Linked DNA regions of Homo sapiens: region 1 is linked to region 2. A link means that fine-mapping ties the variant in region 2 to the expression of a gene that starts in the linked region. Tissue or cell type: whole blood. Region 2 holds a variant in brackets; the other region holds the start of a gene. All regions are shown on one strand. Distances are between the middles of the regions.

The links. PIP is the estimated chance that this variant, and not a neighbour inherited with it, causes the effect.
Region 1: ZNF703 starts here. The variant in region 2 is fine-mapped to the expression of ZNF703 in whole blood (TOPMed, PIP above 0.99).

The regions. Positions count from the first base shown.
Region 1 is chr8:37,692,465-37,700,564 of GRCh38, forward strand. It overlaps ZNF703 (zinc finger protein 703), which reads left to right and starts at 3,318. Exons shown (of 2, transcript NM_025069.3): 1 at 3,318-3,758; 2 at 4,681-7,555. The coding sequence starts at 3,516. The coding sequence ends at 6,210. It overlaps LOC124901932 (a long non-coding RNA gene), which reads left to right and starts at 1,466. Exons shown (of 2, transcript XR_007060887.1): 1 at 1,466-1,536; 2 at 1,951-2,319. It overlaps LOC124901933 (a long non-coding RNA gene), which reads right to left and starts at 3,217. Exons shown (of 2, transcript XR_007060888.1): 1 at 2,976-3,217; 2 at 2,281-2,519. RefSeq lists silencers at 1,957-2,141, 2,929-3,278, 3,329-3,428 and enhancers at 3,163-3,706, 3,707-4,249, 6,683-7,194.
Region 2 is chr8:37,547,844-37,555,943 of GRCh38, forward strand. All of the region lies in intron 1 of LINC01605 (long intergenic non-protein coding RNA 1605), which reads right to left. Among named protein-coding and RNA genes, the nearest start is that of LINC01605, 48 kb to the right of the region's middle. RefSeq lists enhancers at 1-475, 476-975, 7,959-8,100. The variant G/A (reference allele first, on the strand shown) is at 3,707.

The DNA of each region.
Region 1 (8,100 bases), 140 kb after region 2:
ACTGGAGGCTGGGGAAGGGTTACTTTCATTTCTGTAGAATTCAGAGACAACCTGGGCTCTTCTGCTTGGGTTCCCAGGGCTAAATCTGGTGCTGATGTGGCTGCTCCCCTGAGCAATTGCTCCTCAGACACAAATGATGCAATCGGTTACAGCCATCATTTACCTTCAACTTTCTTTGTGCCAAGCATGAAACAGGTGACATGCATTGTCTGCTTCTGGTCTCCCAACTCTGAAGTGGCCACGCTTCCATTTTACCCTGGAGGAAACCAAAGCTTAGGGAGGTTCACTTGCCCGGGGTCCCCACAGCAGCCTGGTTCTGGGCCTGACTCTCTTCAGCTTGAACTGAGAATGATAGCAACACCTGATGTTTATTAAGCGCCTGACATACCGAACTGTCATTCTTCACCACAGTGTCATGGGGGCACTCTCAGGCAGCCCTCTCCCCTGTCCCATTTTAATGGTGGCCGCTCATTCCCAGGGCCATCTGAGGAGGACCTGGACAGTGGAAGGCCCCTGAGCCACGCATCTGCCACTTTTTTGCAGAGGGAGAACCTGTGTCATATGTCCTGAACAGGGATGTCTTACTCGGGCCTTCCAACCACATCGCCCTCCATAAACACAGCCCATCTGAATACAGAGCCACATTCCCTCCCAGGTGACAAGCCATTCCTCTGAAAACTACACTTGCCTTCAGGCCCCGAGGGCCCCATTTAGTGCTCTGTATAGGTTAGCATTTTAGCTAAGTGAATGGTGAATCCCAATTGTAATAATCATCTAGCAGTGTTTTAATTAGGCCTCTGGCCTGGCTATGCATGGTTTTTCATTTTCCCTCCTAAGACGTTTGGATGGATCCAGCCAAAGAAACCCTGCTGCCCTGACCAGCAGCTCAAAGTGTGTCCCTCCCGCCTTGCATGCTTTCAGAGGTGTGTCCTACCACTTCCCAGGAGGTGGGAGCAGGCCAATCTGTGTGCCCGTCAGTAATTACCACTGGGAGCTCAGGGAGTGAGGTGTTTTTAACAGGACAGTATAGTATTACCTAGGCAAATCCCCCATCACATCCTGCCAGTCTGTCCTTACCTCCTCTTCTCTCCCTTCCTTTCCTTCATTCACTACCTTTTTCCTTCTCTTTTCCTCTCCAAACAGAGAGTGAATATTCTATTGTCCTCTCTCTTCTCCCCTCTCTCCTTTCAGCTGCCTCCTGCTCTGTTTTCCAAATTCCTAAATACCTCTTCCCTCTCCCCTCCCCTTTTCCTCCTGACTTATTTCCCATTAATCATTTCTAACACACATCTGCTCAGGCCCTAGAAGGATCCCTTGGCTCCCTCTCACAGCTGGGCTGGTTACAATAATCAGGGAGACTTTCATCTTTCATAGCCTCCTAGGTCTCCCCTCTGCCCAGCTCCTCCTCCTCTGCGTTCCTGCAAAGGCCAGCCTCTCTGCACCCTGGCTTCCTTCTGCCCTTCCCGCTCTACACAGCAGTCTCCCGAAGGCAAAATGGCTTGTGGGTGGACACAGCCCTGCAGTGGACTTTTACAGGTGGTGTTTGCAGTGATGGCAATGGCTGCCCGCACAGAAGTCGGCATGAGAAGCCTGCCACGATGAAATAAATGAGATCACTCCCTCCCTTTTCATTCCCGCACCCCTCTTGCTGCAATGTGGGATCCATCTCACAGTCAGGGTACCCCTTTCCATTCGGCGTAACATGATTTTACCAAGATTAAAATTGGGGAACATGTAATTACAGCTTGTGTAATTTCTAAGCATTCTATAAGTGCTGCCCAAAATACAGTATGGATCCAGGGAGTGCACTTAGTTTTGGGTATGACTGATACTGCCTGGAAGTGGGGTCTGCTGTCTTCTACTACTGGGCAAGATACAGATTCGTGATAGCTATTTCTTTCTGTTTGAAGAGCTCCTTTGAAATCACCTCTCCCCATCTTGGGTTCTCAGGTCATCTCAAGGCGTCGGTCAGCGCGGCAGAGTCGGGAACCTGCCATCCTAGAGCAATACGCCCCGAGTGACAGCCCTGACAACCGGAGTGATGGATCGGGACTGGAAAAGTGGTGCTGGGAGCCAGGCAGTGACACCAGCGCGCCTCCACTGGCCGCCGAGCGCACGGAGAAGTGGGCTCCCCAGAGTTCGGCACCCAAAGGACCAACTTCGCCTCCGGAAAAGCGGCGGATCCGGAACTTGGATGTCAGGACTATGACTACGTAAAATCTCTGCCCAGGGCGAAGCTAGCAATGCACACTGTATCAGAAAGGCGCAGGGAGTCGGGAAGGGTATTGTTATTTTTAATTAAAAGTTTTTATCCCGAAATTTGCCTGGGGAAAGCAAGTGCTTTTTCCCCCGGAGTGAGAAGGATGGGGGGGCGGAGGGGTTGTGTTGCCGAGCAGCGCTTAGAGAGAGATCCCCCTCCAGGGACACCCGCCTCGCCCGTGATCTCGGTCTCTCCTCGTAGCAGCTGGGCGCGGTACAGTGAGGAACTTCACGCCCCTCAGCAGGACACGGTAAGAAGCCTGTAACACACCAGACACCGAGCCTCTAACGCAGGGCGCAGGCACAGCGCGCACAGCCTGGGGTCCCGCGCTTGGTCGCCGACCATGTCACTCCAGAAGGGAGACAAACTTGCAGGCTTCAGACAAGACGGGCTCAAAGTAGTTGGAGCTGCCTACGCCGCGTCCCGAGAACAGTGGGTGCCTCCGAGGCTCGGGCGCTTCCAAGTGAACACACCAAGGGGAGGCCAAGTAGGGGAAGGAGAGCGGGGCCGAGGAGAGCCGGAGCAGCTCTGGAGAAGGACCCGGGCTCCCGAGGCGAGGCCTGCCCCCAGGCGGCCTCTGGGAGAGGCTTGAACTCCAGCGTCCCAGAGCCCGCGCCGTGCGATCCCTCCCACCCCACCCCACCCCACCCCACCCCACCTCGGACACACACGGCGGGCGGGGTTACAGCCCCCGCCAGCATCACCCCCCACCCACCCAGTGGTGAGAAGGGAGAGAGGAGAGAGAGCGGCCGGAAAGGAGGACGGGGCGCAGAGCTCAGGGTCCCGGAGAAGTCCCGTCCCAGGCGGGGGACCCCAGGGCGAGGAAGGCCCAGTCGGGGGGAGGGGAGGAATCCCGGGAGCGGCCGAGACCGAGGCAGCGGCGGCGCGCGGCGCGGCCCCTTTAAGGCTCTCCCCGCCCACCGATGGAGCCGGCCTCAGCCCGCCGCTCTCCCCGCCCCGGGGTCCCGGCGAGAGCTGCGATTGGGCGGGCGCGGCGATCCCTTTGAAGTGTGGCTGCCGATCGCGGCTATTTGACGTGCGGCTCGAGGAAGGCGAAGGTTTTTGTGTTGCTAGCCGGGGCCAGCGGCGGTGGCGGCGGCGGCGGAGGCGTCGGTGGAGGAGGGGAGGCGGCGAGGAGGCGCAGCTCCCGCTGCACCGCGATCGACGCTGCGGAGCGAGCCCACCCGCCCCGGGAGCTCGCCTCCCCGGTGCTCCCCCGCCCTCCCCGCCCCCCCAGCGGCGCTGCCTCCTCCAAATGAGCGATTCGCCCGCTGGATCTAACCCAAGGACACCCGAAAGCAGCGGCAGCGGCAGCGGCGGCGGCGGGAAGAGGCCGGCGGTGCCGGCAGCGGTGTCCCTCTTGCCACCGGCGGACCCCCTGCGCCAGGCGAACCGGCTCCCGATCAGGGTCCTGAAGATGCTGAGCGCTCACACCGGTCACCTCCTGCACCCGGAGTACCTGCAGCCGCTGTCCTCCACTCCCGTCAGCCCCATTGAGGTCAGTCCCCGGCCGCTGCCCCCGGGCGCCGGCCCCATTCCTCCCACCGCGACCGGGACCCTGACCCAGCTCCCAGCGCCCCGGGGCTCGGTGCGACACCCAAGTCTGGTCACGCTGGCGGGCTGAGTGAGGAGGGGAAGAAAACCGAGGGATCAGAGCCCACCAGGGCTTCCCCAGGCTTCCCCGTGGAAGGGTCTCCTTCCACGCTCGCCCTTCGGAGCTCCGTGTTTTCTCTCGGATTGGATTTGCTCCTGGAGTCCCCTCTGGGTCCTTTACTTTTCCTCTGATCCCCAGTTTCCAGCCAGGAGTTGGTCTCTGCTGGGTCTTCCCCGCCCCCCACGCCGGGCTGTTTTCTTTGAAGCCCTGGCTGCCCGGGTCCCACTTCGCCTCTGTCCCATCCGGTGAGGGCGCACGGCGCCCTGGCGCTCCCGATCCCGGATCTTTCTTCCTGCCTCTTCCCTGGGTGCCCTCCCCGGGAGGGAGGGGCTACGGAGAGAGCGCCAACTGCAGCCCCTCCTTTAGAATCCGCGCTCCCCTCTCCTACCCCGCGGCGCCATCGCCAGAAACCCGTCCCAAGCGAAGTTCCCCCAAACTAAAGGAATAAGTTTTTTCCTGGGCCTGGAGGAGGGGGACATTAGAGGGAAGTGGCGAGTCACAGCCCCGACTCCAGAGACGTCACCTTCTCCCGCAGGGGTCCTGGGTGAACTCCTTCCGCAGGGCCTGCGGCGCACCCCGGGACCCAGCGGCAGTGTGGGCGCAGTTCCGCCAGCTGCCGCGCCCGGCCCGGCCCTCGCTCGCAGACCCTCTCCCCAGGCCCGCCCCGCCCCGTGGCGCCGCCGCCCAGCTCCCCGGGCGCCCCCGCTCGCCCCGCAGGCCTCTGAGTCTCACTCCTTCTCCCTCCCCCTGCTTCTGTCTCCCACAGCTGGACGCCAAGAAGAGCCCCTTGGCGCTGCTGGCTCAGACCTGCTCGCAGATCGGCAAGCCGGACCCGCCGCCCTCCTCCAAACTCAACTCGGTGGCGGCGGCGGCCAACGGGCTGGGAGCGGAGAAGGACCCCGGCCGCTCAGCCCCGGGCGCCGCCTCCGCAGCCGCGGCCCTGAAGCAGCTGGGGGACTCACCGGCCGAGGACAAGTCCAGCTTCAAGCCCTACTCCAAGGGCTCCGGCGGCGGCGACTCCCGCAAAGACAGCGGCTCCTCCTCGGTGTCTTCCACCTCCTCCTCGTCCTCCTCGTCCCCGGGAGACAAGGCGGGCTTCAGGGTCCCCAGCGCCGCCTGCCCGCCCTTTCCCCCGCATGGAGCGCCGGTCTCCGCATCCTCGTCCTCGTCGTCGCCCGGCGGCTCCCGCGGCGGCTCCCCGCACCACTCTGACTGCAAGAACGGCGGCGGGGTTGGCGGCGGGGAGCTGGACAAGAAAGACCAGGAGCCCAAGCCCAGCCCGGAGCCGGCAGCCGTGAGCCGCGGCGGCGGTGGGGAGCCCGGGGCGCACGGTGGCGCCGAGTCCGGGGCCTCCGGGCGCAAGTCCGAGCCGCCCTCGGCGCTGGTGGGGGCCGGCCACGTGGCGCCGGTGTCTCCCTACAAGCCGGGCCACTCGGTGTTCCCGCTGCCGCCCTCCAGCATTGGCTACCACGGCTCCATCGTGGGCGCCTACGCCGGCTACCCGTCTCAGTTCGTGCCTGGCCTGGATCCTAGCAAGTCCGGCCTCGTGGGAGGCCAGCTGTCTGGGGGCCTGGGCCTGCCGCCGGGCAAGCCCCCCAGCTCCAGCCCGCTCACCGGGGCCTCCCCGCCCTCCTTCCTGCAGGGATTATGCCGCGACCCCTATTGCTTGGGAGGTTACCACGGCGCCTCGCACCTCGGCGGCTCCAGCTGCTCCACCTGCAGCGCGCACGACCCTGCCGGGCCCAGCCTGAAGGCGGGGGGCTACCCGCTGGTGTACCCCGGGCACCCGCTGCAGCCCGCCGCGCTCTCGTCCAGCGCCGCCCAGGCCGCGCTCCCCGGCCACCCGCTCTACACCTACGGCTTCATGCTGCAGAACGAACCGCTGCCGCACAGCTGCAACTGGGTGGCAGCCAGTGGGCCGTGCGACAAGCGCTTCGCCACCTCGGAGGAGCTGCTCAGCCACCTACGGACCCACACGGCCCTGCCGGGAGCCGAGAAACTTCTGGCCGCCTACCCCGGGGCCTCGGGCCTGGGCAGCGCCGCCGCCGCCGCCGCCGCCGCCGCCTCCTGCCATCTGCACCTCCCCCCGCCCGCCGCCCCCGGCAGCCCCGGGTCGCTGTCCTTGCGGAATCCACACACTTTGGGCCTAAGCCGGTACCACCCCTATGGCAAGAGCCACTTATCCACAGCGGGGGGCCTGGCCGTGCCGTCCCTCCCCACAGCCGGACCCTACTATTCGCCATACGCGCTGTATGGACAGAGACTAGCTTCAGCCTCGGCGCTGGGATACCAGTAACTACAGCTCTTCCTCCACCCCAGCCCCCTCACCCTCCTCCCTCTCCCTCCTCCTCCCTCCCCACCTGCCGTCGCCGCTGCAACCTCCACTACTGCTTGACCCTGCCGGGATTCCCCACCCAGCCCTTCCCCACCGGACTGTGTATTTATTTACTATAATGTTAGCTTACAAGCTGGGAATATAAGTGCATTAACGGCCCACATGAGTCAATGGTATGCAAAAAGTCTGTGTTCTCCCAAATAATAATATTAATCCCACAAATAACGACATGATCCCCGCCCCTGTTCCTTTCTGTTATTTTTTCTTAGATATAAGTTTTACATTTTTTATTCCTTTTCCTCTTTTTTTGGTTTTGATTGGTTTGGTTTGAGGGAGAGTTGGGGTCTTTGGGTTCTTCTAGACGTTTTGTTTTCCCTTCCTGGGGAGTTTCTTGCATGAGTCTTAACTTAAAACTACGTTTCCGCCTTCTCTTTTTCCCTCTTCCCCCTTCATTCCCTCTTGTTTCCTTCCATTTGCGGTTCTGTTTTTGTTTTTTGTTTTGTTTTGTTTTGTTTTTTCCTTTGTTGTACAAGTAACAGAGAGGAGGTTTTTTTTGTAACTCATTTTGGGGGTGGAGGGGGCCACCTGGGTGGCAGGGGCCCTGGAGCTCTATTGACCTGGTACACTGCTCCGGGACTCCTCCCCCGCCACCCTCCGCGCATAGGGTCCTTGGTCTGGACCCTGCCCCCCAAAAGTAGGGCCTTGCTCCTCTACCTTGCTCTGAGCACGGAGAGCCCTGACCCCACCAGTAGGCTCGCCCCCAGAAGGGCCCAAGTGGCCGTCTACCGTCACCTTCCAGACTCCCGCCCCTAACACCCAGTGGCTACAGTGCGCCTGTCGGGGCACCTGGAGCGCTCACCTGGTTGAATTCAAAGTCCCAGAAGGCCCCGCTGGCGTGAAGCCGGCCCCTTACATTTTGCGAAGTGCATTATAGTCCTTGTTTTTCTCTCCCTCGTGGGGGCAACGACCCCTCCCCTGGCAGTAGGGGTGGGGTAGGTGACTCTCGCTAGATCCCTCCAAAGCAGACCGGTGGCGATGTCAGCGGATGTCACGAGCTCGTTAGCTGCGTTCGGGGAAGGTTGGGGCGTCAGGGAGCTCTCGGATCACAGCAGCCCCCGCCCTCTCCTAGGCCTGGCCCGGCAGAGCCCCCAGAGTGGACCCCCCAGCGACTGGGGTCTTCTCCCCACTCCTCCCTCCTTCTGGTCTGATGCGGCAGCGCGGGGGCTGCGGGGCCTGTTTGGGACGAACAGAGCTCTCCCTTGGTAAGACTTATTTTGTTAATAAATGGAATACTTGGCTATATTCACACCGTGGTGTTTTTCTCTCTTGCCTCGCCCACCCTCTTCCAGACACCTAAGCAGATGCCCTTCTTTTATTCTTGTTTAAAATGCCTTATGGTTTCCTTCTGTGATTTCCGTTCAAGGACGAGTTTAATGCCTTTCCTCAAGAAATGGGGGAGAAAAAACAAAACTTCTGCCAACGCATTACAAATAACATAAAACCACCTTTTAATTTTTTTCCCCAGTTGGTTATGTAGCTCCCAGCCTCACTTCAAAGGCCTTGACATTTCCTGGGGCCAGGGTGGAGGGTGTGTGTAAAAGTGGATTTTCCTCTGGGCCCAGATGCGACGTGCTAAGGGGGCTAAGAAGGGACCCCAGGACCCCAGCACCAAGGGCTCCGGCAGAGACTCCAGCAGCGCAGTCCTGGAGCCCGGCGGCCTGGCGGGCAGAGACGAAACGCCTTTGGCGCCACCTGGTGGCAGGAAGACGAGCGACAGGCCTCGGAGAGAAGGCGCAGCCCGCACTAGCCCCGACGGCACCTTGGTTCTTCTCATCTTCTGAACGCGAAGGA
Region 2 (8,100 bases):
GCTTGGGCAGTGGGTAGACACATGGCTGGGCAGTTGCTGGCTGGCTGGGGAATCTGTTCATCTCGCTGGGGCTCCAATTTTGGAGACCACACAGGTTGTCAGTCACGCCACGGCAACAGCACAATAGAACAGAGAGTGGGGACATGTTGGGGCAAACAGTGATGGAAGATGTTTAATAGAATTACCATTAGGCCTCGAGTTAATGAATCACAACTGCAAGAAATCATGATAATCCAGCAGGCATTAGTGACAGATTAGCTTCAAAGCTGCCATAAAAGTGCCATAATGCTTACCTAACGGCATGATTAATTCTCCCAGTGCATAATGGCTTTATGGGGGAACGAGGCACCAACAGAGGCTTGATGGAAAGCCATGCCGAGATCCCAGAGCACAGAGGGTGTTCCCACCCTGCCCAGCCCATGTGGCTTCCGCTCCGCCCGGAGGAGACTTCAGCCACTGCATTGTGGTAGACAAAGTCGAGGCTCAGGCTCACCCCAGAGCCATCTCCCCAGGAGCCCCTGCCATCTCTCCAATGCTGTGCCCCTTACCAACTGACAGTTATCCTAAGAGGACACCCCAGTCCCCAAGATGGGCCCCTCCTATGACTAGCACTGGTGCCTGGAGAGCCCCACCCCAAGTCCCCTGATCAAAGGATCCAGCATGGAAAGATCTGGAAAGACTGCTGCACTAGGAACTCACCACAACTCCGCCCCTCACTAGCTGCGTGACCTGGCAAGTCACTTGAACTCTCTGGGCTCAGGCAGCCAGGCTCTGAGTGTGCACGCTTCACCACCAGACTGCCTCCCTATCTCAGCACCTATTTATTAGTCCCTAACTTCTGTTCCAAGCATGATCTGAATCTCCTTGTATATTTCATTTCATCCACTGCCCATAACATTCCCATGAAATAGTTAACCCTGTTATCCTCACTTTACAGATAGGGAAACCGAGGCTCGGCAAGGCGAGGTAGCTAGCCCACAGTCCAACTAGGGATAGATATGGAACCAGGCAGTATTCCCTAGTTCCTTGCTTCTCTATCAGCCTCCTTCAGCCCTAATACCACCAGTTTAACCTCAGGGGAAAAGCAGCTGCTTGTGAGACACCGAACATCATCTTTTATGAAAAAGACAGGATCAGCACTACTCAATTCCCTGCCCCTTCCCCTTGGCAGTGGAGGAACCATGAGCTGGAAGGCAGGAGATACAGACTCTCCTGCTCCTGTTTACCTTGACTCTGTGGTTCCCATAGTATTACCTGGGCACTTCACCCTTCTGGATTTCTGTTTCAGCTTCTCTTTTAGAAAAAGAGAATAATAATAATAATAACAATAATAATAGCACCGTGCCTGCCTGGCAACAGGGAGCTGAGCCTCTGGGCCCCTGGAGGCTCAGATCTACCGGTGCCCAACAATCACCAGAGCCAGGGCCGCTTTGCTGAATCATCCCCAGACTCTACTTCAGAGGCTGCCACTGTGGTCCTCCCATCATCCCATAAATATGGAGGCAATTAGCATGGAGCTCAGGTCCAAAGGGAATTCTCAGAGCCCTGTTCATCTTCATAATGTTGAAGAAAACCCTCTAGGAGGCCCGCGTCACTGCTGCGGCAGGCTAGCTGCTTCTGCTCTGATTAGGGATCCAAGAGACTCACACAGCTCCCCTCCTATAGCCCTCTCCTAGCCCATAGTGCTCAGGGGCACCCACTAGACTGCCACTGAGAAGTCTATAAAAAAGACACTCCGTCCTCTCCTACCAAAGCATTAACAGGCTCCAAACTTTCCCAAGCTCTAGACTTCTTTTACCTTATTTTATTTTATTCTACTTTATTGTAGTTCACTTAGTGATAGGGTCTCTCTGTCGCCCAGGCTGGAGTGCGTTGGCACAATCATAGCTCGCTGCAGTCTCCAGCTCCTGGGCTCAAGCGATCCTCCTGTCTCAGCCTTCCAAGTAGCTGGGACTACAAGCACATGCCACCATGCCTGTTAATTTTTTTCATTTTTGTAGAGCTGTGGTCTTGCTATGTTGCCCAGGCTGGTCTCAAAATCCTGGCCTCAAGTGATCCTCCTGCCTGAGTCTCCCAAAGCTCTGGGATTACAGGTGCGAGCCATCACACCCAGCCCTATGTTCCTTTTAAATTCCAGAATCAAAGGGCAAACCATCACTCAATCAGCAAGTACTTACTTCCACAGGGCACTATAAGGAAAACCAAGAAGATCCACTTTATCCCTTTGCAGCCCTGGGTCCCAGAGTGGACATCTGCTAGCACTGCTGATGGCAGTCTCACTGCCAGTTCTGGGTGGGTTTTCTAAAGGCGACTATCTTTGTGATGGCCCATGTACCTCTCAAAGCCCCATTCTCTTGTTCGAGCTGATTGCCTGATGTATGTCGAGCTGACTGCCTGATATGTGTCAAACTGACCCTATCACCTTGGTTACAAAGCCATAAAATCCCAGGGTTGCAAGAGACCTCAAAGAGGTTTTTTCTGCCCCCTCCCAAAATCTAACCCCATCCACTATGAACTCCTCTTGAGTCAAATACATAGTTCTTACTTCAACATGCCGTGCCCAGTGAAAGCTCAATAAATATTTATTGATGGTGGTGCCCATGATGAATTAACAGCCAAAGCTATAAAATTAAAGTTTCACACAAGGAGAAACCCCAGTGAGAAAGAAACTGCTAAATAAAGTTTACAATTTTTCAAAATGACAAGTGTTCACACACACACACACACACACACACACGGCGTGGGAGACAGAAGACCACCATTCTCTAACTTGCCTATTCAAGGAATCGGAAAACAGGAAAGTCCTTCTCATAGAATATTCCTGCCTCAGTGGAGGGTGTGCTCAGCTTCTCAGAGGTCAATCAGCCTAGCCTGTCAGGATGTGCCTGGCCCTGGACCAAGCGTCTCACATTGTCTCCTTGCTGGAACCAAGAGCCAATGGAACAAAAACACAAAAACACAAAAACAAAATGGCGCTGTTTAGGGCTTTATCCAGTGTCTCAAATGGGCGAAAGTAAACACAAGGATATATCCAATTCTAAGGATGCTAAAACCTCAAGAAGGACAGACAGCTTAAAGGAGAATCCTTAACAAGATAATACGCACCTAGGAAAAAAGGCTAGGGTGTGTAGCTATAAAGAAGACAAGAACTTTGAGACCTATTGAGTAGAGACCAGTCATCACCAATCACAGCCAACCCTTGCAGCCCTTCCCCTGCCCCAATGTGTTTAGAGACATGAACACGCTGATTGCAGGTCTAAGAGCCTCCATCGTTCTTTTTAGAACCAACTGACAGAGCTAGCTTTTTTCTTCCCCCAGCTCCCTGGACTTCCTTGAACTGCAGCATGGAAGCACCAAAGCTCGCTTGCCGCCTTTCATTCTCCATCCTATGTGACTTAGCAGGAGCTCATGGGAACTGCTCAGTCAGGATCTTGTCATACCGAGCCACAGAGCTGTCTGGACATCAGGCAGAAGAGGGCCCTGCAACTCCTGATACCAAACCAGAGAGGACTGTTTACAAGCTGATCAGGTTCGTGGGCTAAAGAAAACCTCAGGCAATCTGGAACGGGGAAAACAGGGAAGGCCTTGAAGAAATGGATTAGACCAGCCCTGACAACATAGCAAGACCCTATCTCTACAAAAAAATTTAAAAATTAGCCAGGCATGGTGACACGTGCCTGCAGTCCCAGCTACTCAGGAAGTTGAC[G/A]CAAGAGGATCATTTGAGCCCAGGAGTTTGAGGCTGCAATAAGCTGTGATTGCACCACTGCACTTTAGCCTGGGTTAAAAAAAAAAAAAAGAAAAAAGAAAGAAGGAAAGATAAGGAAATAGATTCGAGTTTGTGCTAATCTTACAAAGTTAAGTGAGATCATACCCCCAGATTCTCTCCCACCAGAGGGAGCTGGTTGGAGCCTGGTTTTGCATTAGCCCAAAATGTTCTGATGCAGCACACCGTGGGGCTGGTGAGGGTTGGGTGGAGCTGGAGCAGACATAGAAAGGGAAGCCCTTGAAAACCAAAGACAGTGTCTTAGGGGGACAATCACACCATGCCCTTTCCCAGGTCCAGCCCTTTGGGCAATGTTGCAAAAGATCCCCCAAAAGAGCTTCTGCCTGGAGCAGGTCAGGAGCTGCAGTGTGGGGGCCCTGGGGCTGCGCTGCCTCTTCCAGTCTTCTCCTGGACACTAGGCCATTCTCCCTTTTCCAGCTCTTGCTCCTTGTCCAATCCTCAAGAACCTCTTATTTGAAAACTATGCTAGTGGTTGACCAGGTAACCAGAAATTTAGAAGACAGAGAGAGAGGCTGGGCACAATGGCTCACGCCTATAATCCCAGCACTTTGAGAGGCCCAGGTGGGAGGATCACTTGAGCCCAGGAGTTCAAGACCAGCCTGGGCAACAGAGTGAGACCTCATCTCTATTAAAACTAAAGAGAATAAATAAATAAATTAACTGGGCGTGGTGGCACGTGCCTGTAGCCCCAGCTACTCAGGAGGCTGAAGCAGGAGGACTGTTTGAGCCCAGCAGTCTGAGGCTACAGTGAGCTACGTTGCTGGGCGACAGAGTGAGACCTCTAGAAAAAAAAAAAAAAGAAAAAAAAAAGACAGAGAGGTTGGGGGAGGGGGTAATCTATGAAGCTATGGACAACGAACATCTCATGGCATCACCCTACCCTCGGCTTGGTAGAGTTCTTCTTGCGGGAAGACCACAGCATGTCCATGGACCGAAAGAGAACACCCACAGTTCACTTGGCAACACTCAGTGGGCCCTTCCCAGCCCAGGCCTGTCTTCCCTGGCTGCTGAAGGTGGCCTCATGATTCCGCTCTAATTTTTGGTGTGTGTTCCTGCCCAAATGGGGTGTCTGATCTTGTCATGGCCAGCGTTTGCTGCAGAAGAGGACCTGGTACACTTTTATAGGAACCCAGTTCTTCCCTGGGGCTAGACTCTAATGCTGTCCAGATGCAGAAAAACAGAAGGGCCATTCAAAAACAACCGAAATATCAACACACTTTGAAAGCGGTCTGTTAGCACTTGCCATAAGCACAATAAACAAAACAATGAAACCATCAGAAAGCACCGTGAGACAGTCCGGCTTTAGGAACTTGGCTTTGATGGCTTAGAAAAGCAAAGAAAGGGGGCAGAACCAGTTCCCACTTGGGCTGAGGCTTGTTTATTCTGCTTATCTGAAGTCAGAGCTAACAATCCTCATCTCGATGAAAGGACCTAGAAGTTTCTCCCTCACAACTGGCCCCTCTGCAGAGTAAGGTGGCCTTCTGCAAGTGGTCAGTTTCTGCATGTGGCCCATAAAACACCCATTTTATAACATGACTCCGGTCTGTTGAAAGACCCTTGTTTCCTCTGTGTTCCATCAACAGATGAGTGAGCTCAACAAACAAGAGCATCTGCTGGAGCCCTTACCTGGGTGGGCTGGTGGGAGGGAACCCTGAGGCAGGGTTCCAGTTGCCCCCTCCTCAGCAGTTAGCTACCCTAACCCCAGGTGAGTCTAAGCAGCAACCGAGGGGGCTGTTGGTTCTGCCCAAGGCCCCACTGCTGAGACCTTTGTCCTGCTTTGGAGGGAGAGACCACTGGGAGAGAAATGTCACCCGTCATCCCAGCAGACACTGCACACTGTCTTCCAATCTGAGTTGCGGAGCTGGGGCTGGGGCTGTCCCCCCGGGTGAAATGAGGCCGCCTTTTCACCACAGTCACTCAAGGTTATTTCCCACTGTCTCCATGGCGCAGGCTTTGCTTAATTCCCGAAGTGGGTGCTGGCCAACTCATCTATCAAATTACCCTGCCAGTGATTTAAGTGAGCTTAGTTCATTTGGGTGCCGTCCTCTTGCCTTTTGACTCTTAGTCAAGCAAAATAGGGGATTAACCAAAGGGGCGTAGGGGGACTTGACGTGGCTGTCTGTTGCGGGAGGCTGGAGGGCACCAGAAGTCAATGTGCCCCAATGACAGGGTGACAGCCTGGGAGGCCCAGGACATGGGCTCCGGTGCTCTGCTGTGCCTTACAACCATAGGTCCCTGTCACGCATTCCCCCGCCTCCCGCAACACACACACGGTGGCCCTCAGTCTCCTAAGCCCCATGGGTAGATGAGTCAGAAGACTCTACTTTGTTCTTCCTTCCTAATTGAAAAAGGCGGGGAAAAAAACAGATGCCAGAACAAAGGCACTAAACATACCTAGAGCAGGAACTCTCCCTTCTCTGCTCCAGGCCTGAAGACTGCAGTCTGCTTTACCATCATCCTCTTTCTTCTCTGTAGAACACGTGCAGTGTCTGCCAGTTCAGTCTGAATCCAGCTGTTTCCCTGGAACAGACTGTTACCGATTCAGCAACAATCAGTAAAAATTTAATGTGCCCAATCGCCGCCCTTTAACTCCTTCCCACATCTGAACGGGTGGGGATAATCTTGAGACCCAACCCCCAACTTCCCCAGATGGCTTTCACTCTATTGTAAATGCCACTCCCAGCATGAAGGGCCTACCCCCTCCACTCCTGTCTGGCCGGATGGGGACCAAAACAGCAAAGCCCAAGAGACTTAGGGTCGGATGCCTTCCAGAGTGGCCACCTTTCCATTGATTGGCTTCCTGTGGCACAGAAACATCCATAGGATATGGATTTTTGGAGTGAGAAACCTGTGATTCAAACCCCATCTTTAGCCCACACTACCAGCCAGCCTCTCGACGGCTAATTCATCTATTGTAAGGACTAAAAGAGGTCATGTCTAGCCAGGACCAAAGCACAGCCCAGCACAGAGTACGTGCAATAAATATTAGCTGCTTTATTCTCATCTTTGCCGAAATTCAGCTGTCCATCAATCCACAGACAAGTATTTGTCAGACGCCAGTTAAGCGCCCAACACAATGGGAGTTCAAAGGATACAGATAAATAAATCAAGATCACTGCCTTGGAGGCACTCCCAGGATAATGGAGAAGATAAGCAGATCTTTAGAGACAGAAAATGCTTTGGCAACACAGAGTGACATTCTTATGGGGGCCATAGGGGCCTGTACCAGCTTAGAGTCATCCCCATGGTGCTGCTCCTTCTTGACTAGGTGACCGGGGATCAGTTACCTAACCCCTCTCAGTCTTGGGTTCCTCATCTGTAAAATGAGGAAAATAACATCTATCTCATCAGGCTGTTGTCAGGATTACATTAAATTAAATTAAATAATTCCATTGACTAATTTAATTTGATTTAAGTTAATTTAACATGACCCTTATCAGCTGTGTAACCTCCTATGGGAAATGTGGATAATAACTGACCTGTTAGCTGTATGTGGTGGGGCACAGCTGTAGTCCCAGCTACCTGGGAGGCTGAGGTGGGAGGATCCCTTGAGCCCAGGAGGTCGAGGCTGCAGTGAGCCATGACTGTACCTCTGCACTCCAGCCTGGGTGACAGAGTGAGACCTTGTCTCAAAAAATAATTATAAAATAATTGGCCTCCTTTGTAGGGATGTTCTACAGATTGTTTGTTAATACATATAAAGCTGTTATTACACTCTAGGATGTAAGTGCCCTGAGGGAAGGATTTTGGTGTGTTTTATGCACGGATACATTCCAAATAGAACAGGGCCAGGTACATAGTAAATAATACTAGTTTACTGAATGAACTGTTGAATGCCACAGGAGAACAGAGCCATTCCAAGAAGGCTTCCTGGAGGAGGCAATGCAGAAAGGTGAGCAGGAGTTATCTAAGCTGAGAAGATGGGCGGGGCTACTGCAGAGGAAATAGGCAGGAACCAGGACAGAGCACAGGGGAACAGGAAGCCTCAAGCAATCTAGTATTTGGAGAGTAAAAAGTACAAGTCAGGCAGGGGCAGGAGGTAGAGATTCTCTCCCAAATGGTCCAGTGGTTGATCTTAATGGGGCCAAACACAAACACACCCAAGATACATACCCAGGAGAAATGTGAGCATTTGGGAAAAAACAACTTCCATCGGCCCCTCCTGAGGCCTCCAAGTCACTGGGCCTGATTCAGGAGAGCAGAAATAGCATTTCCTGTGAGCCCTTCACCTCTGGGGAAGGTCCGGTCACAGGAGACCCTAACCCATCTGTCTGCGAGATTTCCAGCCCACTTGGAGAATGAGGCAACCATGCCTG